Homo sapiens: one gene and its partners. The protein of the gene in region 4 interacts with the protein of the main gene of each other region in a pairwise test. Each region holds a gene or a part of one and is shown on either strand. Other genes may lie near its edges. The genes, in order: STK3, ASNS, FKBP1B, TRIM69, SPMIP2, MECP2 and TRIM55.

Region 1 (4,543 bases), on a different chromosome or scaffold from region 4:
ATTCCCAAGTCTCAGTTTCCTTAGTGCTAAATGGTAGTGAAATGCTATTTTATAGGATCCTTGTGAGGAGTAAATAAGATAACATATACAAAATCCTAAGCACAGTGTTTGGCCTGTAGTAGGAGCTCAATTAGTAACAGCTATAACCTGAGAAATTCACCTTTTTCTCCATTTCCAAAAATAAAATAAAATAAAATGTAAATGTACTTTTATACTTCCATGACACTCTCCTCATTTTCTCAAAGAGATGTCAAATTTCACAAACAGTGGAAAACAGTTCTCTCATCTCAAGTCGTATCAATAGATATTATCAAACACACTCTCGGTCAGGAGATGCCAAGTGCGCTGAGTACTTCTCTAGCATTTGCTCATCTTGCCATTCAAACCCCTCTTATTCATGTTGATGCTACTCAGTTCATTTTGGAGATCATCATTCTCTATAGAAGCCCCTTTGACTAGCTTACTAAAAAAAAGAGAGATGGAGCAAGGTCTTGGAGGAGGCAGGGAAAGGTGGAGGCAAGAATTTGCCGTGGGAAGAACAGAGTTGCTCGATAGCTCAGCATCTCTGGTCCCAGGAAGATATGATTTTTATCACCGCATGGGAAGCAGGGCTGACAATGCCCAGGGCTTCCCGGATGCTCCCTCTTATCAAGTTGTTGGAAGGATAAATTAATAGGGTGGACAGATGAATATTATCCTTTATTGATTATCAACTATATTTAAAACACTGCTAGGCATGTTTTGAATTTACCTAATACACACACCTGCACATATACACACAACAGAGAGACAAATATTTATCACTGAAACTCAGACAGAATTAAGCAACACAATTACTAAATGATTTGGCTTCACATCCCATGCTCTTCACTATACCACATCATTTGTTCAGAAAACATTTCATGAACTCTTACCAAGTGCTAGGTATTGTATTAGGTATCAAAAATACAGTGGGAAATAAACAAAAGCACACGCTCACAATAAAGCATGACAGTGCTGTAAGAGTGAAAGCTTGGGGTGAGATGGGAGCCTATTAGAGGGGCACTTATTCCTAACCTGGGGTTGATAGAGGAAGCAACCTCTTAACTGAGCCTGAGTGAATGAATATGATTTAGCAAAAGAAGCATAAATCCCACAGGAGGATTTAGGCATTGCAAGTGGCCAAAGGTAAAAAAGCTCTGTAAGAGCTGAGAAGCTGGAAGAAGGATGAAGAGGGAATAGAAAGGTAAGTAGGAACCAGAGCATATACTGCTTCTTAACTGGTGTTGAGCTTTAGCCTATAAGCAATTGGTAGTCACTGGGAGGGCATAAGCAGAAGAGAAATGTGCTGAAATCTGTATGGTGGGGAGGGAATGAAGATTGGAGGCAGAGGATCAGTTTAGAAGCCTCACAAGTGAGAAACTATGAGGACTTGCACTAAAGAAATGCAAGCAGAGATCATGAGAAGAGAATAGGGATATTTAGGGGGCAGAACTGATGAGATGTTACTTCCATGAAGGGTGAAGGAAGAAACGGAAATTAAGAATGACTCAATTTTTCAACCTTATTCCAAAGACCACATTTAAAACACCTATACAGCTTCTCTAGGTACTTGCATGATAACATTTCACTTTTTTTCTGTAAAGTAGGGAGCAACGTCATCTACTGAAACTGAGATGGGAGGCAGGAAGAAGAGATCTAGTGAAGATCTAAACTAGCCACTCTGTAGAATGAGGAATTGCTGAACAGAGAAACACAGGCCTCCAGGAAAGTTGAGGGCCCAAATGGGGGAGAAGGTCTTGATCTGGCAGCCCTCATCTGTGCAGATGGAAGATTATCTCCAGCAGCACTCAATAGCCAGGGTAAAGATGCAGAGAAGATGAACACTGAGACTGGACCATATCAAAGTTTTCCAGGAGAGGCAGAAAAGACAAGACATTAGGGCAGTGGAGTTTAGAATATAAGAGAGTGGCAGAAGCAATGAAATATAGCCTCTAAGAGGAGTTTAGAACATAAGAGAGTGGCAGAAGCAATGAAATAATGAAATATAGCCTCTAAGAGGAGTTTAGAACATACGAGAGTGGCAGAAGCAACGAAATAATGAAATATAGCCTCTAAGCTGGATATAGAAGTGAAGGGAGGGTGTGCTAATAAAAAGAAAGCAGACTAGGAACTAGGGTCAGGGAACTAGAGGGCTCTCATGATAGCATTTCCCAAAATGTGTTTCTCAGATGCTTATTACACAGGATGTTAATCACTGATACGTTCCTCATTAAAAGCTTTTCATGGTCAAATAAGTGAAGGAAAGTTTGGGTAATGTAATTTTTAAACTGTTTCCTTCCTGTACTATTTGTATTTAATAAGTTAATAATATATACTGTAGTTCTCTAATAATTTATCTCTAGGATAAATATGCATTTCCCAAATAATTCTGATTACTGTATATTATTTATCTATATTTATCAGAGAATTTCACTGAATGGGTATCTTAAGGAACACATTTTCAGAGGGTCTGCTCTGTGAAATGAGAAGCAGGGATGGTAGAACACTTGAAAAGAAAGTATCTTACCAAGGCAGGAGGTTTACCTGAAAGTTCTCTTAGCTTCCAGAGCTATGTATCTTTAATTCTACTATAACACACACACACACACACACACACACACACACACACACACACACACAGCTTGACTCTGACTCTACTGTAATTAGTATTCATTCATGAAACCAATATTCCAAGAGCATGTACTATTATGTGGCAGAGGAGATTTATACAGCATTCTTACCAGGACAAACTTCGTGACTTATCTGGAGAAACAACAGATACACACATGAAAAATAAAAACCTGGCTGGAAAATATGGCTCTTCCTCAGATACCCATAAGACATAGTTTCCCTCCAGGGCAACTAGTGCTACCAATCTAGCCACAGCTCTGTAAGATCAGAAAGTTCCTCCATAAAAACAGAGCTAACTGAGTAGATCTGAGCTGAACAAACTAAAAAGCCCCAGTCTTTCTTTGCTGAAGCTACTACTCTCCCAGAGTCACCCATGATGAAATAATCTCTCCTACCCCATCAGTTTGATGACATAGATTCTTGACCTGGTCCTAATCTACTCCAGGATAATAAATCCTAAATTGATTTTCTTGAATGACAACCAACCTGCTTTTACCCAGTGTCAAGCATTCAGAATTCCAACTGGCACAGACTAGTATGGATAAAACATAATCCATAAGGAAGAAGTAGAGATCCACATGTAAATAATGGCTAGTGCCAGACTGTGAAGGATCTTGGTGACACAGCTGAAGCCTGGACATTCCATGGGGAATGAGGAGGCCTTAGGGATATCTGAATAGGAAGACTGGGAGCGGGAGGGTAAAAGTAATGCCATCATTGCTAAAAACAGGTTTAGAAAGTTATTCTTGGGACATGCCCATAGGGTCCACGTCCATTTTTTAAAAGGCAGATCAAATTTTAAAATACTTTTTGTCATTTTTCTCCACTTCCCTTCAAAGGGTCTGTGGGTAATTTTCCTTTCTAGAGGTAAGGAAAATAGGCCCATAATTTCTAGCTTCATGGTTAAAGGTATAAAAGAGTAAGTGTAAACATAATTTAAACTGACAAGGATGTTAAATCAGGCAACTCACTTGAAACTCCAATGGAAAAAGAGATGAAATTCTAAATCTTCAGTACACATTGTAGAGATTTTAGAAAACCAAAAATAATATACTGCTATCATCTTATTAGGGAACAAAAATGCTAAAGACACATTAGCAAATGTGGCTTTGACTGATGTGACATAAGCTGAGACCTCATACCAACTAATTTAAGAAGTTTTAAAGATTTAGATCACGAGAAAAACAAAACTACAATAATTATATGGTTTCAGAAAAAGTAAGTCTTCCCTCAATAACTTCTTCACATACTTTACTACTGCTATACTACAATATGACAATCCCTAGGGGTTATACTAACATCACTTGATTAGAATTTTGGAAACACTGAAGTCTCACATTACAGAATGATGTCTAACTTGTAAAAACAAAAAACACAGAAAGTTGGCTCATGGGATTTAAAATTTGCTGAGGTCCATAAAACAACTGCAGCTATAAAAACCACTTATCTGTTCAACTTCAAAATTGGTTTTCACTAAAATCTCTGTGACAAAAAGTCATACCTATACAATCAGTTATAACAAAATTATAACATGTATTGATTTTTGTGGATGTCAAATCTAAAAGTCACTATACAAAATGTCAGAAATCTGTGGTATAAAGTATGATGTCGGAAACATCATCATTAGTCTCTCTTCCTTGAAATATAATACACTGCAATCTAAATGAATTAGATTCTATAAAGACTCATTTTTCTTAACTATTATATATATGCTGATGTTCAACTATATGACTGCATGAAAAGTTGTTCATATAGTTTCATAAGGAGCTCAGTAACTCCCTAAAGACACAAAAAAGCACTCAATGATCTAATTGATCTGTTAAGAATCATAAAATTTGAGTTAAAAATTATATCAGCTTATGGAAAATTGATATTACATGTTGATGAAAAA
Region 2 (5,271 bases), on a different chromosome or scaffold from region 4:
CAATATCCAATCCAACTCTGCATTAAATCTTGATTCCGGAAACGTGCATAAACCACTTCAAAGACTAAAATTTAAACCATCTTTTCTATAGCGATTTCCCATTAGGTTGGCAGGCACATGGGAGTAGAGAATGATTTAATTTACTTACAGGTATTCGGAAAAGATAGTGACCTCTACATTCAACCGGCTACAGCAGCTTAGCACCTAGCCAAAGCCTGCATCTCTCCCACCTTAGGATTTAGTGGTTGGCTAGAGCTGACAGCGTCCATGCCACATCTGTCTCTGCATTCTAAGTTTGCTTCCAAGATACAGATACAAATGCAGGCTGGCTCCAACCTAGCCAGAGATCCTAGCCCCACTCTCACCATCCCAAAATCCCTCAAAGATCCAACAGACTTTCCAGATTACTAGAGTCTCCTCTCAGGTTCCCTTGACAGTTAAATGCCCTCTTTATCTGAACTAGCTGCAGGTACCATATAATGGGTACAACAGAAAATCATACTGCTGTAAGTGTAAAAGATACGCAGCTCTTTCAAGCATTTCACTATATTACATCTAGGTTACCTTCAAGTGATTTATTCAGATGTGATTGAAGAAAATCTAAAGGGAAAAAAAAAACAATTTAATTTGATATCAGATATCCTGGCTTTATAACAAATAAAACATTTCAAGTTAATAGAAGATACAAAATATTCACTATCAAAATGTCCTCACTGACAAAAATGTTCTCAAATATTTCTGTCTCAAAGTTGCATTGTTCAGTAAGGAAGCAAAGTAGGTGAGACATATACACCAACAACATCCCTAATAAAAAACTTAGCTCATCCCTATAAGCCCGGAAGCAAATAAATCACCCTTACATACGTTAATTACTTTCCAATTTCAAATTCTCAACTGTGAAATAAAGGGCTGTTTTATTTGGCTGCTGCCAGCTCAAAATGACACATTGCACCATGTGTGGCATTTGGGCCCTGTTTGGCAGTGATGACTGCCTTTCTGTTCAGTGTCTGAGTGCTACGAAGATTGTACACAGAGGTCCAGATACATTCCGTTTTGAGAATGTCAATGGATACACCAAAAACAAGATGTTTTAATTAAAACATCTCTAACTTGAAAAATAACTATTTTGGTGTTTTTTTTAAAAAAACTGCGAATTGCAGCAAATGCCCAAATAGTTTGGGATAAACACCCTAAGGAAAAAATATACATTCAAGTTGCATAAGTCACTTTGAGCTATTCTTTGATGATATTTCATTTATATCTAAAAGAACCAAAGGTTTAGCTGGCTTTTCCGGAAAACCAGAACCAAATAATATATGGTTAGAATGAAAATCATCTCAAGCAATTTGGAAATGAAGTACCACATGTCCTATGCTGTCTCTTCCATGCACTTGACCAAATAGCCCAAATAGCCTATAACAAATTATTTGAGATTTACTGGAAAAATTCCATAAGATTTAAATGAGATGACTACTAATAAGCCATCTGCCTTTGACTCTATATCAATTTAAAACGGGTTAGGAAAGTGCTTTGAAAATCAAGTATGGTCATCAGGGAATCAGTTACCTAAGTCTTCTTAACGCTGCTTAGTGAATCCCTGTATTAATCCTGCTATAATAAATACATTCTAACCACTAAACTGGAGGGGAAAAAGGGAGAACAAAGAGGCATGTAAAGTACACTTATTTTTTCTAGTAGGAAAAAGCCAATTAAAACTATAACCTATTATTTTTATTGGAATCAGTCTTATAGGAGGGCAAAGTTCCTACTGCCGCTACCTGTTCTCAATATTTTTCTTATTTCTTCCTAAACTTCTAGAACAGTGCTGTCCAATAAATATATATGTAAGCCACATATGTAATTTTAAATATACTAGTAGCCCCATTAAAAGAAAAAGGTGAAATTAATTTTAAATAAACTTAACTCAGTATGTCCCAAATAGTAACATTTTAACATATATGTAATCAATATAAAATATTATCGAGCAGATATTTTACACTGTTCTTCCTACTCCAACGACAAAATCCAGTGTATTTAACACAATACATCTCAGTTAGGACTAGCCAGCACTTCAAGTGCTCAACAGTTACAGGTGGCTAGCGCCTACCGAACTGGACATGGCAGTTTCAGTGCATTTAATTTCTATTCCACTTAGTGCTACTTACAACTTCACCCTCTCCCTTTACTTTTATATTAAGATCTCAGTAAGTAACCAACTACAGACAGGTTCAAGCCCTACTTTACCTCTAATTACTCTTACAGCAATGCTATGAATCATGATTTAAAATTTAAAAAAAAAAACTGCTGTTAAATTATTAGTCAAGCGCCCAGGGCAATGGACAGTAAAGAAATAATGTAGGCCACGGGCCGAGATGAAAACTGTCCTTTTTATTTAAAGCTATAACAATCATCTGAAGCCAGCCCTGCAAAATGACAGCCATTGAAAAAGGCATGCTAGTTCTTTTGCCTTTTTCTGTACTTGGTCGCCTGTGTCCCTAAACAGACCTCTTCTCGGCAGGGTTTGCTCAGCAAGTCACTTGATGAGTCTTGCAGTCTACAGAGACAGGTGGGGACTGGTGGGGATGGCGGGGTGAGAGGGGAGGAGGAGGGTGAGCGGTCCAGGTGAGGAGGGGGGCAGTTGAAGGTGAAAGCAGACACCGAGACGGTGATAAGGCCGCAGTCTCTTCCTAGATCAGGACCACGCGACACCTGACTGCGCCCTGGCCACGAGCACGATCCGACCCGTCCGCCGCAGGGACCCGGACCGCGAAAATGTCCACAGGCTTCGACGCCACATAGTAAAAAAAAGTACACATATAACATTTACAGGGGCTCAAACTGCCGCTGCCTCCTCTCCGGAGCGGTCCGGCCTGCCGGCCGCGGTTCCCTCTCGATGCTTCAGGGAACCAGGACAGAAAGGTCCTTCCGCTAGCTGTCAGGTGCGTAACAATCGCTAGGCGTCCGCCCCGCCCTCCCTACCGCAGGAGCCGCAGCATCAGCAGGCGCCCGCGAACCGCGTCTGCCGGGTGCCAGGCTGAAGACCGCATCCTCCACCCCTTCCTTCCGGAGCAGCCCCAGGGCACGCGAGGAGGATGCTGGCGCGGGGCGCAGGGCACGGGGCGCAGGACCCGGCTCACCTGGGCGTAAGCAGGTCAGGGTGATGTGGCGGGCTGAGGCCAGGGATGTGGACAGCTTGACGGGCGGCGAGGCCGCTGGCGCTTATACCGACCTGGCTCCTGTAACGCGTGCGGGAAGTTTCATCATGCCTGCGAGGACCAACCAGCGCGCACAGGGGCGGGGCCGCGGGGTGTCCGGGGCGGAGCAGGACTAAGTGGGGCGGCGGAAGGGCGCAAGGAGGAGCTCTTTTGTTTCCAGCGCCTTGCGTCTCAGTGCGCCTGTTTAAGGATAGCCTCAGAGCTCCGCCCAGGCTACCTGCTGTTCTGACAATTAGGGAGGCTTCTGAACTTGGTTTGTTCTTCGGGAAATCATCACCGTTTTTTTGTTGCACTGCCGTCTGATTTATTATGCAGTGCAGAGAAAAGCTTGTCCTAAGAAACTGATGCGTGAGGCCTAAAATGTCCTTATAAGATCTATTAATAAATCGGGGCCAGGAGCGGTGGCTCACGCCTGTAATCCCAACACTTTGGGAAGCCAAGGCAAGAGGATCACTTGAAACCAGGAGTTCAAGACCAGCCTGGGAAACACAGCGAGATCACATCTCTATAAAAATTGGTGGCACACCATGGTAGTCCCAGCAACTCAGGAGGCTGAGGCAGAAGGATAGTTTGAGCCCAGGCGTTTGAGGCTGAGGTGAGCTCAACTCCAGCCTGGGCGACAAAGGGAGACCCCCATCTCTAAAACAATAAAATCTAAATCTAATTGATACATGAAGCCAAAATACATCAGTGGTCCTTAAACATTTTAAGTACAAAGATTCCTTTTAGAATCTCAAAAAGGATTTTGTCAACTTGCCTCCACAAGATGATTATGTGCTTTTAAGTATCTCTTTGATGAAGAAAAGACATCACGATTTTTAAAAAGTATCATAACACTCTTAAATCGTATTTTACTAATTACATCAGCACCGAAATAAATTGAGAAATAGTAAAATTATATGTGCACGACCTACTAAGATCAGACTACAGTCAATGCTTGGAGAGCATGCAGGTTTGATATCCCCATACAACGCATTCCTGACTAAATCAAAAACGTCAACAATTTAAAATCCCTAAGAACAGAAGATGGAGTAGTCGCTTAGTAGTTACAGGCAAGAGCAAAGATGAGAGATGACTTGTTCTAAGGTTCATTGTTGCTGGAAAGTTTTCAGTATCAAACAGACTTTGCTGTATCCTAATTGACGTACTTTAAACCTGAGAGCAATGTGGGAAAGTAGGTCTTCTATCTACATTTTACAAATGAAAAAATAAGACTCAGAAAAGTTGAGGGATTTATCCAAACACAGCTTCACAACAGTAGAGAACTGAGTCATAATCTGTGTAAACCCAGAGCCCATTTCCCGTAGCATCTTGCCTATGTAGTGAAAGACAGGTTCCCCTGCTTGGTGTGTTACCTAGTGTGCTTCCTTGTGCTGCGTATCTCCTGCTTGTCCGTCCAGAGCTCTACACTTCTCCACCTCACTTTCTATCCTGGCTCCCTTGCCCTCCTCTTTCAGGGAGAGTGTGCAAAGGCAGACATTTCAAGGAGATGCAAAAGGTGAAATTAAAATTGCTAATGAAGTTTTGGCACCATTGTCATTGATAACATCTTATCAGGAGACAGGGTTTTGAGATCAACCGGTCTGACCAAAGTTTATTAGGTGGGAATTTTCTCTTCCTAATAAGCCTGGGAGTGCTATGGGAGACTGGAGTTTATTTCACCTCTGCAGTCTCGACCATAAGAGACAGGTACGCCCCGGGGGGCCAGTTTAGAGACCTACCCCTAGGTGCGCATTCTCTTTCTCAGGGACGTTCCATGCTGAGAAAAGGAATTCAGCGATATTTCTCCCATTTGCTTTTGAAAGAAGAGAAATATGGTTCTGTTCTGCCTGGCTCACCGGCGGTCAGAGTTTAAGGTTATCTCTCTTATTCCCTGAACAATTGCTGTTATCCTGTTCTTTTTTCAGGGTGCCCACATTTCATATTGCTCAAACACACATGCTGTATAATTTGTGTACTTAACGCAATTATTACAGGTCCTGAGACGATATACATCCTTCTCGGCTGACAGGATTAAGAGATTAAAGTAATGACAGGCATAGGAAATCACAAGGGT
Region 3 (3,263 bases), on a different chromosome or scaffold from region 4:
CTCTTCCAAAGAATAGGCCTCTTTAGGAAAAGAGGGTGTATGAATAGCACACGTAAATACTCAAGTAGGTGACAGGGGCAGTTATTTAAAGTGGTTTAGAGACTAGAGTCACCAGCAAGGTGGCAAGGGGGACCTATTGTGGCCAACCGTGGTGGCTCACACCTGTAATCCCAGCACTTTTGGGAAGCCAAGGTGGGCAGATCACTTGAGTCCAGAAGTTCAAGACCAGCCTGGCTAATATGGCAAAACCCTGTCTCTACTAAAAAATACAAAAAGTCCGGGCGTGGTGGCTCACACCTGTAATCTCAGCACTTTGGGAGGCCGAGGCAGGTGGATCACCTGAGGTCAGGAGTTCGAGAGCAGCCTGGCAAACATGGTGAGACCCCGTCTGTACTAAAAATACAAAAATTAGCCAGGCGTGATGGTGATGGTGCACACCTGTAATCTCAGCTACTCGGGAGGCTGGGGCAGGAAAATTGCTTGAACCTGGGAGGAGGAGGTTGCAGTGAGCTGAGATTGTGCCACTGCACTCTAGCCTGGGCAACAGAGTGAGACTACGTCTCAAAATAAATAAATAAATAAAAAACAAAAAACAGGCCGGGCACGGTGGCTCGCACCACTTTGGGAGGCTGAGGCGGGCAGATCACGAGGTCAGGAGACCGAGACCATCTTGGCTAACAACGGTGAAACCCCGTCTCTACTAAAAATACAAAAAAATTAGCCGGCCGTGGTGGCGGGCGCCTGTAGTCCCAGCTACTAGGGAGGCTGAGGCAGAAGAATGGCGTGAACCCAGGACGCGGAGCTTGCAGTGAGCCAAGATTGCGCCACTGCAGTCCAGCCTTGGTGACAGAGTGATACTCTTTCTAAAAAAAAACACCAAAAACAAGACCTATCGTAAGGGAGCATCATAGGACTTCACAGACAGACCAAGAAAGAACAGCTTGAACCAGGGCTCATCACAGCAGTTGTTGAGAACCCACTCAGCATTAGTGGGACAATTGGTGAAATTTAAATCTACTTTTGAATTTTGAATAATCAAAAATTTGAATAAGTAAGTAATTTGTATCAGTGTGAATGTCCTGGTTTTGATAATTGTACTATGGTTATGCAAGAAGGGGAAGCTGGATAGAATATAGAAGAACTCTGTACTATTTCTTTAATATTTTTGTAATTCTGAAATTCTTTTCAAAAAAGCGAAAAAACGAAAAATTTTCTTGGCCTACTCCACCCCAACTCTTCCACTACCTCAGTCCCAGGCAACTGGTAGACCTCAGCTAGTTTATTTTTTTGTTTTGTTTTTTTGAGACAGTCTCACTCCATCGCCTGGGCTGGAGTACAGTGGCACAATCTCTGCTCACTGCAACCTTCACCTCCCCGGTTCAAGTAATTCTCCTGTCGCAGCCTCCCAAGTAGCTGGGATTACAGGCATGCACCACCACGCCTGTATTTTCAGCAGGGACGGGGTTACACCATGTTGGTGAGGCTAGTCTTGAACTCCTGGCCTCAACTGATCCACCCCATTCGGCCTCCCAAAGTGCTGGGATTACAGGTGTGAGCCACCGTGCCTGGCTCTCTCAGCTAGTTCTGAGCAAGCCTAGGGGGATGTGCTTGGGATGAGAGCCCCCAGGGACACAAAAGAGGTATGCTGGCAAGGAGAGGGGTGGGGACGCAAAGCCAGGAGGGGACACCAGATGGCGTTGCCATGCCCTGGCTGTAGAGTCAAAGCAGTAGTGGTCTGTGAGTGGGTGAAGGTGGAGGTGGAGGGCAGAGTGCTGATCCCAGATCCCCAACTCCCCAGATCCCCTTTAATGCGAATCCTCATCCTACCTGGGCTGCACCCTCTTCAAAACCTTTGATGACTTCCTGTTTGCCAATTCTGAACTTGAAAGGTTTGTTTCTGTCTCTGGATGAATCAAACTTCTTCCCATTTTGGAGCATTCCTGTCAAAGCAAGAATCGGGTGCAATAGAGCTGTGGTCATGAGTAAACTCCCAATTCAGATTCCACATGTCTAAAATGGAATGCCTTTTCTGCACACACCTGCTCCTCTTCCGATCCTCCCCATCCATCCTGTTGCCCAAGCAGGAAATCTGGACACTTCCTTCTGCCTCACCCCCACATACTGCCTATCACTAAGTCCTCCATATCTTTGGAATCCACCTATTTTCTTCATTTCTATTTTTATTTATTTATTTATTTATTTGAGACAGAATCTCAATTTGTCACCCAGGCTGGAGTGCAGTGGCACAATCTCGGCTCACTGCAACCTCCATCTCCTGGGTTCAATCGATTCTTCTGCCTCAGCCTCCCAGGTAGCTGGCATTACAGGCGCCCACCACCACACTCAGCTGATTTTTGTATTTTTAGTAGAAACAGGGTTTTGCCATATTGGCTAGGCTGGTCTTGAACTCCTGAACTGCAGGTGATCCACCCACCTTGGCCTCCCAAAGTGCTGGGATTACAAGCATGAGCCACTGTGCCTGGCCTTTTCTTTGTTTCTATTACCACGACCAAGTCACCAGCTTATCTCACCTGTACACAGGAACAACCTCCTAACTGGTCTTTTTGATCCTCTTTTACTCGCCTCCATTTCATTGTCCACTTGGCATCCAGACTGATTTTTTTTTTTCTTTAAACACAAATCTGATTCTATTACTCCCCTGCTCAAAATACTTCAATAGCTCCCCAGAGCAGAATCCAAATGCCTACCTTGCATACAGGCACTTCACAATCCGGCTCTGGCCTGCTTATAACCCTCTCTGTTCTCCCCTTCCTTCCCTTCCCTCTGTGTCCTTTTCAGGTCATACCTTTCTCAAATTCCTCTGCACTTTTCAACTTTTTTTTTTTTTTTTTTTTTTTTGAGTCGGAGTCTCCCTCTGTTGCCCAGGCTGGAGTGCAGTGGTGTGATCTCGGTTCACTGCAACCTCCGCCTCCCGGGTTCAAGGGATTCTCCTGCCTCAGCTTCCTGAGTAGCTGGGACTACAGGTACCTGCCACTATGCCTGCTAATTTTTTTATATTTTTAGTAGAGATGGGGTTTTGCTATGTTGGCCAGGCTGGTCTCGAACTCCTGACCTCAGGTGATCTGCCCACCTCAGCCTCCCAAAGTGCTGGGATTACAGGTGTGAGCTATCATGCCCAGCCAGACTTTTCAACTTTTTTATGCCACTTCCTCCACCTAAAGTTCTGTTTTCCCAGCTATTCCAGCCTCAGGTTGAGTCCTCGCATAAGGTTCCTAAGGTTTCCTAAGTTTCCCCCAAAAGGG
Region 4 (4,543 bases):
GGGCATATTTGAAAAGGGTTCCCAAACATCACAAACTCAAGTTGCAGTTTGCTCCAGTAACAGTAGCATGATGATCACTCTCATGAGAGTGGCTCCTGTGTCATAAAAGACCCCAGAGAAGAATGATACCTTGAAAGCCTCCAGTGAAATCCATTTAGGATACTGAAAGAATGGAATTTGATTTGCGCATCCTCTTTTCATTATTCCATAGTTCCCCAAAAATTGAGAAGAGAATCCAGTGAGACTGGTAAAATATTTCAATACCTCTTTAATAACACTCTGAATTTGTATAATATTATGACTCATTACTGTGGATGTAAGATGTGCAATGGTTCTTTATTCTCTCCACCATCATTAAGGCAGGGGCAGAAGTAGGGATAAAGTTTCTCCATGAAAGTGTTACTGAAGGTGTAAATGTGAGTCATGGTTTTAGCATTGTAGAAGGACAACTGTCCTCCTTCATAATCCAGGTATATGCCCACCTTGTCGAGGTTGTTAGTCAGTGTCAGACTGAAAGAAGGCAAATCCAGAGCCTTTAGATCAGTTTGGTTCCTTAGTCTTAAAAGCCAGAATCCTTGCTCAGGAGTTAGAGGACAGCTGCCCTTCCGAATGATGGATTCTCTGACAACTCCAACTGTCCATTTTGTCTTCTTTGCTACTTCTACTTCCCAGTACCACTTTCCAGAGGTGAAGCCTCTTGAGCCCAGTACAGCCACACTTGAGTCAAACCTCTCAGGATCATCAGGCATTATCTTCTTAATGTCACCATGCCAGACGCTGGTTTGGCTTTTGGAGAGCACCAGATTTGGGTGAGCTGTTTTAGGGTCCAGAGTTAGTGGAGACAGGCCTAGTAAGAAAATAAAAGAAAGCAGAGCATGGGAGAAAGGGGGGTAAACACAAATTCCCACAGTAAAAGATAGTATTTCATATTCAATAGTACTTTATCTCCCCATACACATAGACTCTTAGACAGGCAAGCAATTACTTATATGCTTTTTTTTTTTTTTTTTTTTTTTTTTTTTTTGAGGCAGACAAGGTTGCCCAGGGCTGGAGTGCAGTGGTGCGATCTCGGCTCACTGCAACCTCCGCTTCCTGGGTTCAAGCAATTCTCGTGCCTCAGCCCCCCAAATAGCTGGGATTACAGGTGTGTGCCACCACACCTGGCTAATCTTTGTAATTTTTTAGTAGAGACAGGGTTTCGCCATGTTGGCCAGACTGGCCTTGAACTCCTGGCCCCAAGCAACCCACCTGCCTAGGCCTCTCAAAGTGCTGAGATTACAGGCATGAGCCACCGCACCTGGCCACTTACATGCTTTTTATTGTTTGGGTATCCATGTTACTATATTCTAGACATTTTTATATTTAGGGTAAAAATCAGGGTTTACTCAGAAGTAATTTATGCTCTACTAAAGGAAACAATACAAATAATATAAACCTATACTAATAAATATAAGAAAATACAAATGCCAAAGGGGTAAAAATTAGGTAAGGATGTTCTAGGAAAGCTTTCTGAGGAAGGTAAGTATTCAGTTGTATATACATGAGATGTATTTAGGATGTTTTGAATAAACGGAAAGAAAGAAATGGATTAAAAACAGTCCCCTGTGTGGAAGAGAACACAAGAGCTTGCCTGTTAGACACAGGCAAGACTGAACTAACTGGTACAGAGTTTAGAGGACAATAGTGAGAGGTTTATTTTGGTTTAACAGATAATGAGATTTTTGAGATCTAGAGTGGTTTATGTCATTGCTACTCATAATGTGGTCCACATACCATGTGGTTAACAGTCTCGGACAAAGATAGTATAGAAATTAACAGTAAACTTTTAAAAACTTTCATAGCAAATTGACAGTAATTTTATGTCAGTTGAATCTAATAATTACAAAATTGGGCTTGTACTTTGTAATCTTTGCTTTTTTTAATTTTACTTTTTCAAGTAATTTATATTGTATTCTACAAAAGTATCAGTCCATGACAGATTGAGATTTTTTTGATTGGCCCTTCATCACAGATAATTTTACAAGCATTGGTTTAGACAATTCAAAGGGCAGCAGTATAAAAAAGAATATCTAAACTAAATGAAGAGAGGTTGAAAGCTGACCAGCAAGAGGATGACACAAATTCCAGATGTGAGATCATTGGACCTTGACATGAAATTTGATAAAGGAGACCTAATAGCTATGTGTGTGCACACCATGGACACAGATACATGTATGCATGCATTTGTTGTTATTGGATTTATTTATCCTTGGAAGCAGAATCAATCTAGTTTCTCTCTCTCTGTTTTTTTTTTGTTTGTTTGTTTGTTTTGTTTTGTTTTTTTTGAGATAGATTCTTGCTCTGTCCCCCAGGCTGGAGTGCAGTGGCACAACCTCGGCTCACTGCAACCTCCGCCTCCTGGGTTCAAGCAATTCTCCTGCTTCAGCCTCCTGAGTAGCTAGGATTACAGGCATGCACCACCACGCTCAGCTGATATTTTTTGTAATTTTAGTAGAGACAGGATTTCACCATGTTGGCCAGGCTAGTCATGAACTCTAGTCTAACTCTATCTTCTCAGAAAAGCCTGAGTCTTTTCCATTATCCCAGGGACTTCTCTTTCCAACAAGAGGCTTTGAAGAATTAAGAATCTTGAATTTTTCCATATAGGCTAAATCCCTATCCCCTTACATATCCCCATTCACTTTGGGTTGTTAATCTTTCTGATGTGAGGACTGGGTTTTCTTTGGAGGTACCATAAAGACTTTTTAGCAACGTTTTGGAATCCCACTCTGCTCTCTTTGCTAAGCCTCTGACACATCTCTAGCTAGTTCAGCCTGCACTGGCTCTGAAGATTCCCATGAGTCAGCTTTTTGTCCTCTCTTTCCTTCTCATGCCACGTTCATATAACGAAAAGTTCTGTCAGCTCCACCTTCAAAATATATCTTGTGCCCAAACACTTCTGACTACTTCCAGAAATATCACTGGCCTGGAACTACTGCAATAGCTTTTTACTCTTCTGTTTCCTCTCTTGCCCATCTGCACCCTATTCTACACATATCATGAATGAGATCAAGCCATTTCCCTGCTCAGCATACTCTTATGTTTACCATCACATCTGAGATAAAATCCAGAGTCCTTATAGAGGAAAAAAGAGCCACATGATTTACCTACCTCTCTACTTCATCTCCTACCACACTTTCCCTCATTTACTTTGATTCATCCACCCTTGTCTTTTGGCAGTTCCTTGAACATAATGAAGATCATTCCTACTTCAGGGTCCTTATAATTTCTTCCCTTGTCCTAGAATGCTTTTTCCCCATATGGTTCACTCCACATTATTTGGGCATTTGTTCATGCAAATATTTTAAATTGAAAAATTCCCTAAGCTAGAGTAGGCAAACTACAACCAACAGGTCAAATCTGACCCACTGCCTACTTTGTAAGTAAAGTTTTATTGGAGCACATTTATGACCATTCATTTATATGTTGTCTGTAGCTTCTTTTTCACTACAAGAGCAGAGTTAAGTAGCAGCAACAAAGACCATACACCTGCAAGGCCTAAAATATTTACTCTTCAAACCTTTACAGAAAAGTGCCAGCTCCTGCTCTAAAGCAACAGCCTAATTTATAAGGCTGGCAGAAAAGGAGAATATATGGATCTACAAAATAAGCAAAGACTTAGAAATAAAAAGTATGGAATATATTTTACAAAGGTCTGACCACAGTTACCATAGAAAAACAATTTCCCACTCTGTATAGAGGGAGAGTATATGGATAAATAATACATTATTAATAAATAGTCATATATTAAATAAATCTCATTTGGTTTTCTTGATGTAAAATTATACCAAAAATTTAAAAATCAGTTTGCATTTTAAAAGATTGCTAGAAGTGAAGTTTGGCTTTACAGAGCAAAGTATACAGGAAGAAAAACTCTGTCATACCAAGGCAGCTACAATTTGCTAAGCAGAGTAACACAGAGGAGGGAACTTCACAGAAACTTACAAACATCTACAAAGGGATTCTCTCAAGGCTGTGGCTGAGTACTAATCTGCACATGCATGCAGTGAAACTCGTCAAGGCCAGAGAAAGAACCTCCAGAAATCAATAGACTGAACAATTTCTGGAGCTCACACAAGGCTGGGAATAATTTTCAATCTTGCCAACCAGAATGGAAAAATGTCGTAATATGTCAACGTCAGGTAGGGTAATCAGAAGGGTATATTACTTTAGAAAATGGGCTAAGTTAGCCCTAGATTAAAGGCTGCTCTTGAGCCACTCTAACTAGGCTTTATTTAAGCCTCAGAAGGAACAAAATGATGTCATACCATGTTAACTGCATGCCAGAGTTAAATTCAATAGAACTGAAAGAACTACAACAAAATCCAGCAAATACAAAATTCACCAATATGAATTCATCAGTACAAACAATATGAAATTCATCATATTTGGCATCCAGTAAAAAATTACCAACCAGAAGAGACAAATCTCCAGGGCAGCAAAATTTCAAATAATTTACATTAATACACTACCCTCAGGGAGAGGGAGCATAACTATCCCCTCC
Region 5 (4,543 bases), on a different chromosome or scaffold from region 4:
TAGATCAGGTTTACAAGAAAATCCAAAAAGCCAATGTTTGTCAGGATAATGATTAGCATCACAAATAACTTCATCTTCTAGGCCCAGTAGCCATTAGTTTACTTATATTGCTTGTGACCTACCTCAGGTGACGATATGCATATACATATATAACACATGTGAAGCCTACCACATGCCAGACACTAAGTACTCTGTACATATTACCCCATTAAATACCCTATGAAGTAGATATTATTATGGCCATTTTACAGATGGTGTAACTGAGACACAGAAGGGTAAGTATCTTGTCCAAGGTCACAACAATAAGTAAGTGGTGGAGCCAGAATAGTTTAGATCCTTGCTACTCAAAATGTGGTCTGGGAACCAGCAGGGTGGGCATCACCTGGGATCTTGATGGAAATGCCGACTCTCAAGCCCACCCCAGTCTTGCTCTGTCGCACAGGCTGGAGTGCAGTGGCATGATCTTGGCTCACTGCAACCTCTATCCCCTGGGTTCAAGCAATTCTCCTGCTTCAGCCTTCCAAGTAGCTGGGATTACAGACGTGAACCACCACACCTGGCTAATTTTTATATTTTTAGCAGAGACGAGGTTTCACCATGTTAGCCAGGCTGGTCTCGAGCTACTGAGCTCAAGTGATCCCCCCACCTCGGCCTCCCAAACTGCTGGGATTACAGGAGTGAGCCAGCACACCCACCCCAAAATCTGCATTTTAACAAGCCTCTCCAGGAGAATAATTTCCACATTAAAGTTTTAAAACCATTTGCTTAAATAATCTTAGATTATTTCTTCCTGTATTTTAAAAACCTGCTTATGGCTTCAGACTTTGGGAAATAAGGTGTACTTGGTTGGCTTATTAAGAAAAAAAAAGAATTTTAAGATGGTTTTGTGTCCTTTCCCCAGCACCAATCTCCCCCAGATAATCAACTTCTCAAGAGAAAAAAACAGTTTAAAAAAATTATTAAATTCATATTATTTACAGGTGCTTTCATTTCATTAAACCATGATAGAAAACCTTATAAAAACCTTATATCCCCCAAATTACAGATTTTTTAAAAACTGAGTTCAAAAGAGTTAAGGGGAAAGCCGACATTGGTGTCTAAGTTTACAGTTTTTGCTTCTTGAAGCAGGATCTTCATGCTTACACCTATTTCCTAGTAGGTAGCACAGGGCCTGGCACACAGTAAACAATCAACTCATCTTGCATTTAATAATTTTTTCACATCCTGTTTCAACAACAGAAACTTCTTTTTGCTTAATCAAGAGCATTTCATCCTGATTTAAAGAAGTGATATTCACAGTGCGCTGCCCATGCCGACCTTGCTAAGCTTGCTCCACACACCCTCCTATGCCCACCATGACCACTGTTCAGCAGATGGAAGATGATGCCTAGTGGACAGCAAAGGCCTTGATGAATACGTGAAGGAACTAGGAGTGGGAATAGCTTTGTGAAAAATGGGCACAATGGCCAAGCCAGAGTGTATCATCATTTGTGATGACAAAAACCTCACCATAAAAACTCAGAGCACTTAGAAAACAGCACAGTTTTCTCGTACCCTGGGAGAGAAGTTTGAAGAAACTACAGCTCATAGCAAAAAAACTCAGACTCTCTACAACTTTACAGATGGATCATTGGTTCAGCATCAGGAGTGGGATGGGAAGAAAAGCACAATAACAAGAAAATTGAAAGATGGGAAATTCATGGTAGACTGTGTCATGAACAATGTCACCTGTTCTCAGATCTATAAAAAAGTAGAATAAAAATTTCATCATCACTTTGGACAGGAAATAGCTATGAAAATCAACAAGCTCAGTTCAATGGGCAAATCTCCATACTGCTTCTTTTTTTTCATTACTGTGTTCAATTATCTTTATCACAAACATTTTACATGCAGCTGTTTCAGTATCAGATTAATTAGGATCATCCCTTTGGTTAATAAATAAATGTGTTTGTGCTAAAAAATAAAAAATAAAAAAATTAAGAAGTGATATTAACATAACCTACAAAGGATCAACTTTGGAAAATTAAATAAAGCCATGGAAAGGCAAATAAATCCTCCTCCCTTCCATCTTAGCTTATGCAGTAATTATTTATATACATATATTTATATTTATATATTTATATTTATGCATATATAAAACAAAACCAAAAAACTTGAAGTTAAGACAAAGCTTTTCCTTAGAAGTCCTCTTCTAAGGGGTTGGTTCAGGTGCTTTTCAAAGGGATAGCAGCAACTGATTTTTTTTTTTCTGCAAATTACACTGTGTTGAGTTAGGTGACCAACAATTTAAGGTAGGATTGATTTGGAGTTGCTGTCACCTATAGATAAGGCTTTCATGTAACACTTATAGTTTTGTAAATGTAATAATATGTCTTATGAAAAGAACAGTGTTTGATGGAGGACAATGAATAAGGTCTCCCACTTTTGCTATTATGATAGCAACGCCTAATATCTAATGTCCTTATCAAATAAATCACTGCAACTGGATATAATTAAGCTAACTAGATGTTTGGCAATTTTGTTTTCAATAAATGGCCCATTATATTCTATCAGAAGATCATTTCCAACTATCTTAGCTTTTAATTTATTATTTTTGAGTAGACTGAAGAATCATGGTAAGGACATATGTATATTGTCTACAATATATCTTAAAGTAATAGAACAAATTTTGATTCAGGGCAAACTGCATGCTATGACAACAGAATAAAAGGCAGGTAAAAATAAAAATAGACAAATAAAATGCAGTTTAGTCAACCCAATGTTTCAGTACCATTAAAATGTGTAAGCTTTTGTCATGAATTAGTTTTTAAAAATCTAAAAGAGTTGTCTTGTGGATTATAGTGCTGGGACTTAAACTGCATTTGCAGTAGGACTATTTTATTATTTCTTCAAACAGGAAACCACTGGCAATTCAGTGTGAAGTCATTTTCTATTTTTAAAATAATTGAATCTGAGACATAACTATTAGTATGACAGTTTCACAGAGCAAAAAATAAGATGAATAAGTGGGTCTGAAATGCTGGCTAATGGAGCAATACATTTCAAAATTACATATACATTTATGTGCTTCTCCGACCACTTACAGTTTCATTCATCATATCGTTTTTTGGCCATTTCCTAGAGAGTATTTCCAATTCTAATGTATTTCTAACAGAAATTTCATGCTGTGATCACTCCTTTGTAAGGTAGAGTTCTGTAATATTTCTGGTTTACATGAGCAGACTTTCTAGTAGGTATATGATGGCTGACTAAATATATTAATACTTTTATTTAGTCAGTAATCTGGATGTAAGGCACATAAATACCCCATATAAACAGGGAGCAGGCAGAAGCTTCCATCCTTCTTACAAGGCTGTGTGGCCTTCAGCAAGTCACTTAACTTACCTGAACCCTGAGTATTCCCATCTGAAAAAATAGGTTAAATTAGATTATCTGTTATAGTGCCTTTTTAATTTTATGTCTTATATTAACTATTTCTTAACTATATTTAATTTGAGCCAAGTAGGAATTAATGAAGAAAAATCTGAATTAAAGAATGTATTTTTAAAGAAATGTAATTTTTAAGTATTTTTTTTTCCTTCGAGATAGGGCCTTGCTCTGTTGGCCAGGCTGGAGTGCAGTAGTGTGATCACAGCTCACTGCAGCCTCGACCTCCCAGGCCCAAGCTATCCTCTGGCTTAGCCTTCTAAGTAGCTAGGATCACAGGTGTGCACCACCACACTCGGCTGATTTTTAGAATTTTTTGTAGAGATGAACTCTCTCTGTGTTGCCCAGGCTGGTCTCAAACTCCTGGGCTCAAGCAATCCTCCCACCTCTTCCTTCCAAAATGCTAGGATTATAGGTGTGTGCCACCGCATTCAGCCCAAGTTTTAAACTTTAAAATTGCATAGGACCTGGAACTGGGTAAACAAATTAATGTCATTTGTATGTAAACAGATGTTTTAAAAATATATAACCATGCTCTAAAGTAGTTTTAAATTTTCTTCCTAATTTTGTTTATAAGGTTTTTATAGTAAAATCTTTGTAATACAAAAATAACATTTTCTAGGCAGGTGCGGTGGCTCACACCTGTAACCCAGCACTTTGGGAGGTGAAGGCTGGTGGATCACTTGAGCTCAGGAGTTCGAGACCAGCCTGGCCAACATGGCAAAACCCCATCTCTACTAAAAATACAAAAATAAGCTGGGCGTGGTGGCGCACACCTGAAATCTCAGCTACTCGAGAGGCTAAGGCAGGAGAATCGCTTGAATCCAGGAGGCAGAGACTGCAGTGAGCTGAGATCGTGCCACTGCACTCCAGCCTGGGCAACAGAGCAAGACTCTGTCTCAAAAAAACAAACAAACATTATTTATAAAATCTCCTCACTATGTCATTACAGAACTTAGCAAATTGGTAGTAAAACTTCTGTGGAAGAATAGCCAGCAGATAAATGTTTTAAAAGTACAGATGGTTAGCTTGCCCTATTAGATTAAAACTCACAGTTATCGAAAACATGAATTATAGAAATCAGAACAGCATCTGATTGTGGGAGGATTGACTGGGA
Region 6 (4,543 bases), on a different chromosome or scaffold from region 4:
AAAGAGTCAGGCCTGGTACAGAAGGGTTGTCAGGCTGAGGCCCATTCTGCTGGTTGGTGCCTGGGCCTGAGTCACCATCTAGAACATTCCCAAGTTTGAACTCAGGTACGGTGCTCAGTCTCTCCAGGAATCAGTTTCAACAAGATAATCCTTTGCTCACCCTTCTCATGGAATTAAATGAGGCTGTCTGCAAATGTCATTTGAAAACTGCTAACCTTTTTGGGATCATTTAAAAGGCAGAACTGAAACATGCTTCTTCACCCCTCTGAACCCCTAGCTCTGCAAGTTCCTCTGCTTCCGCAGCTATTCCATCCCCAGATAAAGACTTGAGGTGTGGAGAGGATAGAGGGCCTGCTACCTTGAGAACTTCCCACTCAGGGCAGCGACCTCTGTACACGGTCATTTCAAGCACACCTGGTCTCAGTGTTCATTGTTTATGTTCCCCCCGACCCCACCCTGGGCACATACATTTTCCTGCTCCATGAGGGATCCTTGTCCCTGCCCTCCCTGCCCTGTAGAGATAGGAGTTGCTCTTACTTACTTGATCAAATACACATCATACTTCCCAGCAGAGCGGCCAGATTTCCTTTGCTTAAGCTTCCGTGTCCAGCCTTCAGGCAGGGTGGGGTCATCATACATGGGTCCCCGGTCACGGATGATGGAGCGCCGCTGTTTGGGGGAGGCAGAAGCTTCCGGCACAGCCGGGGCGGAGCCTGACCCTTCTGATGTCTCTGCTTTGCCTGCCTCTGCGGGCTCAGCAGAGTGGTGGGCTGATGGCTGCACGGGCTCATGCTTGCCCTCTTTCTCTTCTTTCTTATCTTTCTTCACCTTTTTAAACTTGAGGGGTTTGTCCTTGAGGCCCTGGAGGTCCTGGTCTTCTGACTTTTCTTCCCTGAAGTGTTAAACAAGTATGTAAGTATCACAGAGAACATGCCAGTCTGCAGAACAAGTGAGCAGAGGCAGGCTTGGACCCCCACCACATGCAAGGCCCCAGGCCATCATACACTCAGATCTTGATGTCCTTCCCCAGGACAACAGAGACTCGGGCCAAGCTGGGACCCAAATATTTCTTTAGGAATTTGGGCTGTGGGTGGTGCTGGCCGGTGTGCCTGACCTGCACTGTGGCCACCCACAAGTCTCCTAGCACTGCAGGAGAATCAGAGCCCTTTCCTCTGAGCGGAAACACTGCGGCTCCTGAGCATACCACCCCAGCATGAGTCGCACTTCAAGGGACTCTGGGCTCGATGGCTGACAAGAGGCCGTCGACTGCTGGAAAGGGAGCCAAATGGGGGAGGGGTCTCCTTTGTGAAGGCCGGGCCTTGGGTGTGTTTTTGGTTTTCTAGAATGAGGCTCAATGAGGCACACAGTACAGTGTCATGGAAAGCACACACAGGTTTGGAGCCAGCCAACCTGCACTGAAATCCTTTGCCGCTTTCCAAACATGAACCCAGCAAATGACCTCAGCATTCTGTGCTTCAGTTTCCTTATCTTGACAACAGGTAACCCCATCTAGGCATCCTTACTGTGAGCATCACAGGAGAAAAGGCACAATGGCACTATATAAATATCAGCTAACTCAGGCCACAGGAAACTACCGCCTAGGGTCCTGGGGGTGATAAGACAAGTGGTCCCAGGTGGCGTGAGCCTCTAACACATGTTCCCTGATGAGGAATGGCCTCGGCCACAGCAGATGCGGAGGGAAGAGCAAGGAAAAAGGTGTGGTCCAGGCAGAGCCATACATCCCCTTCCTGCCGGTGGAGAAGAGCACCCTACCTATTCTAGTGTGGGAGGCTTCCCCGTTCTTTTCTGGTGACCGAAGCAGCTCCTTCTCTACACATCACTTTGGCCCGGTGGGGTCTCGTCAGAAATGGCCACCGTGAGGCCCCACACCCCAGCATCACTATCTGGCCATGATGCTCTAGTACTCTGTCGAGTATGCCACCGTGAAACCTCCTAGGACTCCAGAGCCTCTGCAACAACAGGGGCAGCTTGGAAAGAAGCAGCAGCCACCTGCGAGTCCCTTCGTTAGCAGTTCATTCTGGAAAAGAGCATGACTACTCCCACCCTCCGTGTTCTCAGCCCCACAACTCCCCTGTCCCATGTGGTTCACATCAGTGCTAGTCACCGCCTTGCGGCTGGTCTACCCCAAGAGACTTCCCCTCTTGTCTACACTGCACAGACTGTGCAATGAGGGCACCATGGCACTCACTGGCAAGCATCCTTAGGAAACCAGAACTCAAATGATGTAGGGAAGTTACCAAAGGCTGCTTAGTGCTGGGACTCAGAAGCTGCAAGGACGTATCTCTCCAGAACCATCAGGTCAGGTGTAGGGAGGCAAGAGATGTTCCAATCTAGTGACAAGGTCTTAGAGTGAGGGAATGTCTTGTCCCCACCATGACTCACCCCTGAGTTCCTCCCTATCCTGTATCTTCCTCCAGAAGTTTAGGGCCCAGAGTGTGGCTGCCAGAGTCACCTAGAGCCACTGCATACACAAAGGCATCCTACAACCCACAGAGCAGTCTTTCTTGCTGTAAAGAGGGGTCCCTAATCTGTCCCAGCACAGAGCTCGCCTTGTTTTGTTTTTTGTTTTTTTTTTGAGATGGAGTCTCGCTCTGTTGCCGATGGCATAATATCGGCTCATCGCAACCTCCGCCTGCCGGGTTCAAGTTATTCTCCTGCCTCAGCCTCCGGAGTAGCTGGGATCACAGGCGTGTGCTACCACGCCAGGCTAATTTTTGTATGTTTAGTGGAGACGGGGTTTCACCATGTTGGGCAGGCTGGTCTCGAACTCCTGACCTCAGGTGATCGACCCGCCTCAGCCTCCCAAAGTGCTGGGATTACAGGCGTGAGCCACCGTGCCCAGCCAGAGCTTCCTTTTCATGTCTCTGAGTCTTACAGCTCTCAATGGGAAATGACGAAGAACCCTGGAAAGCTAGGTGTGGCCTGTTGCCCACCAGAGATCAGCCTTTGAGAATGGACCCCTAGGCAGCTCCCCAGCTCCCCATAAAGGAGGGAGGGAAGGGGAGCCACCAGCAGAGTGGGCCAAGAAAGCAGACAGATGGGAATCGCTACTTCTACACAATCCATCATGGCACTGCCTAACGCCAGGGCTGCTCCCTAGAACCCGGACGGTCCTAATGTCAGAGAAAAACAGTGAACTAATGGGAAAGATCTGGCTTCTTCGAAACTCTCATTTGCATTTCCCAAATACCTTAATCACCATGAGGTCAAACTATAAACCTAAACGTGACGTAAGGAATGCCTTCTAGAAATCTATGCTAAAGAGACACCTCCAGAAATCTCAAAGAACATATGCATGATGTTATTTGCTACAACATTATTTTTACCAGCCAAAGGCTTCCAATACCCCCGATCCCTATCACCAGGGCACTTGCTGAATAAACTTATGGTGCGCCCACACACTGGAGTACTGTGCAGATCCAAAGGGACTAAACAAGAGCTCTAAGAACTGCGATGGAGTCATTTCCAGGATCCACTGTGAAGCAAAGGGAGCAAAGCGCAAACATATCTACTGCATTCTACCAAAGAAAGAAGGGGGGGTATTAAGGAAGGACACACCAGGAACTAATGAAATTGATTCCCTGCATGGGGTAGGGGGAAAAAGGTAAGGGTACAGGCACAGGAGTGAGGCCTAGCTGAACATGCCTCAGTGTAATTCTGACTTCTGAATCATGTAAATGTTTATATTACCCAAAATAAAATTCAAACTAAAAGTAACAAAACCTTATTACACTTAATGCAAATAAAAACAAATGAGTTCGGGCCAGGCATGGTGGCTTCAGCCTACGATCCCAGCACTTTGGGAGGCCGAGGCGGGTCGATCACCTGAGGTCAGGAGTATGAGGCTGCAGTGAGCCATGACTACATCACTGCACTCCAGCCTGAGTGACAGAGCAAGACCCTGTCTCTCTCTCTCTCTTTTTTTTTTTTTGAGACAGAGTCTTGCTAGAGTGCCATGGCGTGATCTTGGCTCACTGCAACCTCCGACTCCTGAGTTCAAGCCTTCTCCTGCCTCAGCTTCCCGAGTAGCTGGGATTACAGGTACCTGCCATCACGCCCGGCTAATTTTTGTATTTTTAGCAGAGACGGGGTTTCACCATGCTGGCCAGGTTGGTCTTGAATTCCTGACCTCAGGCGATCCACCCACCTTGGCTTCCCAAAGTGCCGGGATTACAGGCATGAGACACCACGCCTGGCCAAGACCCTGTCTCTTAAAAAAAAAAAAAAAGAAAAGAAAAAAGAAAAGAAACAAATTTAATTCTATATCAAATTGACAATATACCACAGAGAAAAGATTTATTTCAAATGACTTTTGACTACAGTGCTCTGCAAACCTGTAGTGGGACATATTCTAAGGCCAACAATAACACTCCAGGGGCAGTAAACACACTAGATTGGCTCCCAGGAGAGATATGTGATTCTGCTTCTGGGGCATCTTGTGCCAGAAAGCCCGGGGAGTGCAAGAGAAAAACAGGGAGGGCCCATGAGAGGCCTCTAGCAGTGGTCCAGGTGTGGCCCAGGG
Region 7 (4,543 bases), on a different chromosome or scaffold from region 4:
CAATTTCTCTCATAACATTCTACTATCCTCCATTGTATACCCTGAATTCCAGCAAAAATAAACCACTCACTTTCTTTGTTCATGCTTTCCCTTCTGTCTACAGTGTTCTTCCCCAAGTCACCACTGCAAACTCTATGCAATTTCAAAGACATTGTCAGACTACCACTTCTTCCATAAAGTGTCCCTTGATGTTTATGGCTGAATGCAACTTTTAACTTTCTGAAATCTCATAATAGTTACCATTGATAGCATATATCTGTATCTACCAGATCCTCTATTTATCCAATACTGCCTAAGAATGGGTAATACTGTATCTGGTCTATGCTCTTGGAGAGAAAGGCTGTGTTGGAAGTCTGGCTTGCACATTTGTGTTGTGTGGCTGAAGTATCTCCAGTACCATCCAGATCCCTTTAGTCTGGGCCCATCTTTAAATCATAATTAATTATCCAGTTCATCTAGTCATTGGCCTTTTGGTTTTTCAATCCCTGGTAAGCTTGGTGTGCATGTATGCCAATCTCCTTGGACTTGACCATCTCTGGGTCCAGGACCTTTATAGCTGAGAGCAGGTTGTGAGCCATAGTGATCTAACCTAGCTCTCCCGCACAGTGAGAGCTTCTTGGGAATCCAGCAAATTTATTTCTGACATCTCTGACCATTCTATACCCTTTATTACATATTCTTTCATTTTGGTAAACATTGAAGTCTTTTATGTCATGTATTGCTTTCTTCCTTTATGTGAATTTCTTAAATATCCAAAGTATATTTTTTTTGAGGGTAGAATCTGGGTCTGCCTAGGACACAGAGCACCTTGGATAGTAGCTGTTCACTAAATATCTGTTGAATAGATTTTGTGGTTTTTTTTTTTTTTTTTTTTTTTGAGATGGAGTCATGCTCTGTCACCCACGCTGGAGTGCAATGGCGCGATCTCGGCTCACTGCAAGCTCCACCTCCCAGGTTCAAGTGATTCTCCTGCCTCAGGCTCCTGAGTAGCTGGGATTACAGGCACATGCCACCTTGCCCGGCTAATTTTTGTATTTTTAGTAAAGAAGGAGTTTCACCATATTGGTCAGGCTGATCTCAAACTCCTGACCTCATGATCCACCCGCCTCGGCCTCCCAAAGTGCTGGGATTACAGGCGTGAGCCACCAATCCTGGCGGAATAGATTTTTTTTTTAATGTGTTTCATTTCCTCTCAATTTCTCTACTATTCTCAGTATGGAGTCAGGGAGAATGACCTAAACCAAATTGTTGATTATGAAGATACTCTGCAAATGTGCAAGAAATACATCCCTTACTCCATTGCCTTCCTTGGAACAGTCAATTCTCATCACAGTTCCCAACCAAATTATAATGCATGGAGATCCAGTGGTGCCAACTATTTTAATAGTAAATGCCTTACCACTGTCATCCACCCATTCATTCATGGATTTAACAAACAATGCATGTCATTTGTGTCAAGACTCTGGGGATCCAAAAAAGAATTAACATAGTTCCTATTCTCAAGGAGCTCACAGTTCACTGAGAAAGACTATAGACCAATAATGTAATTCAATATGGTAGGCTGAATAATGTAAATATTTTAGAGATTTATACCAGATGCTTTAGAAGCATTTATGGAATCTTTGTCCAACCCTTTGTGTAGGTGGAGGAACTTTGAGGGGAGCCAGAAATGTTGACTCAGGAAGAGTTTCTCAGAGGAATTAGTACTTGAACTTGACCTTAAGGAGGAATAGGAGTAAAGGAGGTTGAGGAGGGGATGAAAATGCTTGAAGTCCTAGCAGTTGTGAAAGTAATGGAACAAGGGCCCATGCAGCATGTCAAGATGTGGAAATTGCCTGGCTTGACAAATTTCCACTCATTTCCAGCCCTTTAGCTTGAGAGTCGGACTGTTCAACCAGGCCTAGAAACTGAAACCTATTAGTAGCTTTCCAATCAAACTCTCTTTCACTGTATTATCTTTTGTTCCAACCTTCAGGCAACCAGGTGCCCACTGTACACATGAAATAAGCCTCTCTGATATTTAGAAGCTCTACTGTGATCATATAATGGTTTCCAGCTTGTTTCTCCCAAATGAGTTGTGCACTTGAAACATTTATAATATGAGTATTATATTAAGATGTAATACAGGTAGAAAGTCTTTGATTCACAAAAATTTTCTCCTATGTGATTTAATATGTGAGAACATTCAAGTTTATGGCAGCCAAGTCATTTACAATGAGACAGATGTGAAGCATGTGTAATCTAGTGTACTCTCTCAAGTCAAATAAAGATTAAATCACTTATTTTGACCATATAATTTTTTTTGGCAGTTTAAATGGAATAACTAATTTCATTCCTATATTACTTGCAATTCCAAGCATTATTTTATTTCTATTCTGTTTTTTTAAATAACTTATATTGAATGTTAGTAAAACTACTATCATTTGTTTATACTTCATAGTGCAGGAAATGCTACCCCATATGCGGTCTATGCTTTATTAAAATTATTATATCATTAAATACTTTGTAAAGTGCTTATAATATTACCTGGCATATATTGGTACTGGATCAGTGTCTATTAAATTTAGGTACAAATTCCTTAACCTGAATTATTCAGTTGTGGAATTTTGAAGCTGCATGGAATATTAGAAGTAACCTGCTCCAAATCAATCATGTCACTCATGTGGAAACTGAAACCCAGCAGAGCTGTCACTTTCTCAAGGCCATCCGACCATTTATTATTGGTGCCTGGCCTACAGTCAAGGTCTTTGAACTCCTGGGTCATTGCTACTCTCACCACACCCAGCTGGGCCCATATTTTAAGTAACTTTAAAAAATTATATGAAGTGCTTGTAAATGGAATATATGCCTTTTAACAAATGTACTGGCCAGGTGCAGTGGCTCACACCTGTAATCCTAGCACTTTGGGAGGCCAAGGCTGGAGGTGGAGGCTGCAGTGTGCCAAGATCGCGCCATTGCCCTCCAGCCTGGGTGACAGAGTGAGACTCCACCTCCAAAAGAGAAAAAAAAAACAAAACCCAAATTCACTATGCTTAAGGTAGATTTTTTAAAGGCAAGGCATCTTAAATTGTTTCAGAATTATATTCCTAGTTCTTTCAACAAAATTCACCAACCACTGACTTTGTACCTGGCATTGTATGATCTAATAACCTGCCATAATTTTCCATTGTTTTGGAGAATAATGAACAAAAAAAAGTATCATAAATGATAAATATAAAATCATTATATTTTCTAATTCCTAATGGAAAAAACTTTTTTCTCTTGTTTAATTAGCTTTTAATATAATTCTATGCAAAAAATGGTAAGAGTTAGATAAATCTGTTTCTGAAACGGCAAAAATACATGCCTCTTCTTTGGAATTACGAAATTGGAACTTACAGACTTTTAGAAATTAACTCAAAATGTTCAGGTTAACCTAATGTCATATTCAAATGTGAAATACTCCATGAAATGAAGTCTCCTATTTTTTCACACTCTTTGAGGTAGAACCCACACACAAGAGACTAACTTAGATGTCCCCTAATCTTTCTTGGCTTCAAGACCATCAAAGTGCTGTGAAAGTCAGGGAACAATAAACACCTCAGGTTATCAATTTGCCCTCTAAGCTGATGAGGGAACAGATATGTGCCATGAAAAAAAAATGTTCTCAGAGGCCACCTAGCTACTGACAGTGATGACTCTGAATTTCAGTACCTACTGTGCCTTTGTTAATGTGAATCTGCAACACTTTCAGCAGTGACTTTCTAGCAGCCTGAAAAATGGAATAGGAAAAAATGTGGACTTTTGCATTGTGAAAACGTCTGCAGACAGAACACTTTAAAGGACTGTTGTTACCTACAAAAGCATGATAGCAACCATATTTGTCTCTTCTCCACAAAAACTTCCTCATCTCAAAGACTGCTCCTTGCTTTTAGCATACTTTTTCATTTACTTGAGTAAAAAGGTATGTATCTTTAAGACCAATTCGGAGCCATACACCTCCCCTCTTCTCTGGACAGTAATTCAATCAAGATATACACTTTTTGAGCTTTCGAGTTTATCTTTTCAAATAGTCTCCATTTTCTTCCTTTTGATGTCTGTGCTTCCTACATCCTCTGTGTGTGCACCTGTGTGAGTGTGCTTAGCAAGTGAAGTATACCTCCACCATAAATGAAGTAGGTATTGGTCTCCGGGTATACTCTGATGCAAAGCCTCTGGCTGCTGCACAGCCTTCCTCCTGGGTCTGCTAGGACAGTTATATTTCTTGGCTTCTTGGGAGAACCAAATTAAAGTTGTCTATAATATTTTAATGAAAATAAAATTCATCCCATTTCTAGGGAGAATGCAGTGTGGATGCAATATACCAAAAAGGGATGATTTTATAAAGTGAAGATCATCCCTCCCATATTGAAATGGTAAGATGATGATGGGTGGGATATTTGTTTCTAACCAATGCCAACATTTCTGGATGTAAAGAAAAAAAATCAAATGGTCATTTGGTTGTTTCCTTAGAAGTGAGTAGGTAACATTTAACATTGACCTAAAGCCATTGTTGAACTGTTGC

What was found.
Region 1: the proteins of TRIM69 (region 4) and STK3 interact in a two-hybrid assay, tested with the Homo sapiens proteins (one study listed by BioGRID).
Region 2: the proteins of TRIM69 (region 4) and ASNS interact in binary tests that used the Homo sapiens proteins (3 or more experiments, as listed by UniProt).
Region 3: the proteins of TRIM69 (region 4) and FKBP1B interact in binary tests that used the Homo sapiens proteins (3 or more experiments, as listed by UniProt).
Region 5: the proteins of TRIM69 (region 4) and SPMIP2 interact in binary tests that used the Homo sapiens proteins (3 or more experiments, as listed by UniProt).
Region 6: the proteins of TRIM69 (region 4) and MECP2 interact in binary tests that used the Homo sapiens proteins (3 or more experiments, as listed by UniProt).
Region 7: the proteins of TRIM69 (region 4) and TRIM55 interact in a two-hybrid assay, tested with the Homo sapiens proteins (one large-scale study listed by BioGRID and IntAct).

Annotation. Positions count from the first base shown.
Region 1 is NC_000008.11:98,542,036-98,546,578, forward strand, and holds part of STK3 (serine/threonine-protein kinase 3), read right to left. Parts: intron 1-4,543. UniProt on the Homo sapiens protein: Stress-activated, pro-apoptotic kinase which, following caspase-cleavage, enters the nucleus and induces chromatin condensation followed by internucleosomal DNA fragmentation.
Region 2 is NC_000007.14:97,869,214-97,874,484, forward strand, and holds the start of ASNS (asparagine synthetase [glutamine-hydrolyzing]), read right to left. Parts: upstream 3,196-5,271; 5' UTR 3,138-3,195; intron 2,953-3,137; exon of another isoform or gene 2,506-2,952; intron 601-2,505; 5' UTR 565-600; intron 1-564.
Region 3 is NC_000002.12:24,059,491-24,062,753, reverse strand, and holds part of FKBP1B (peptidyl-prolyl cis-trans isomerase FKBP1B), read right to left. Parts: intron 1,941-3,263; coding exon 1,828-1,940; intron 1-1,827. UniProt on the Homo sapiens protein: Has the potential to contribute to the immunosuppressive and toxic effects of FK506 and rapamycin. PPIases accelerate the folding of proteins. It catalyzes the cis-trans isomerization of proline imidic peptide bonds in oligopeptides.
Region 4 is NC_000015.10:44,763,535-44,768,077, reverse strand, and holds the end of TRIM69 (E3 ubiquitin-protein ligase TRIM69), read right to left. Parts: intron 848-4,543; coding exon 306-847; 3' UTR 251-305; downstream 1-250.
Region 5 is NC_000004.12:159,024,768-159,029,310, forward strand, and holds part of SPMIP2 (protein SPMIP2), read right to left. Parts: intron 1,958-4,543; exon of another isoform or gene 1,296-1,957; intron 1-1,295.
Region 6 is NC_000023.11:154,031,666-154,036,208, forward strand, and holds part of MECP2 (methyl-CpG-binding protein 2), read right to left. Parts: exon of another isoform or gene 2,259-4,543; intron 893-2,258; coding exon 542-892; intron 1-541. UniProt on the Homo sapiens protein: Chromosomal protein that binds to methylated DNA. It can bind specifically to a single methyl-CpG pair. It is not influenced by sequences flanking the methyl-CpGs.
Region 7 is NC_000008.11:66,144,129-66,148,671, reverse strand, and holds part of TRIM55 (tripartite motif-containing protein 55), read right to left. Parts: intron 1-4,543. UniProt on the Homo sapiens protein: E3 ubiquitin ligase that plays an important role in regulating cardiac development and contractility, muscle growth, metabolism, and fiber-type differentiation.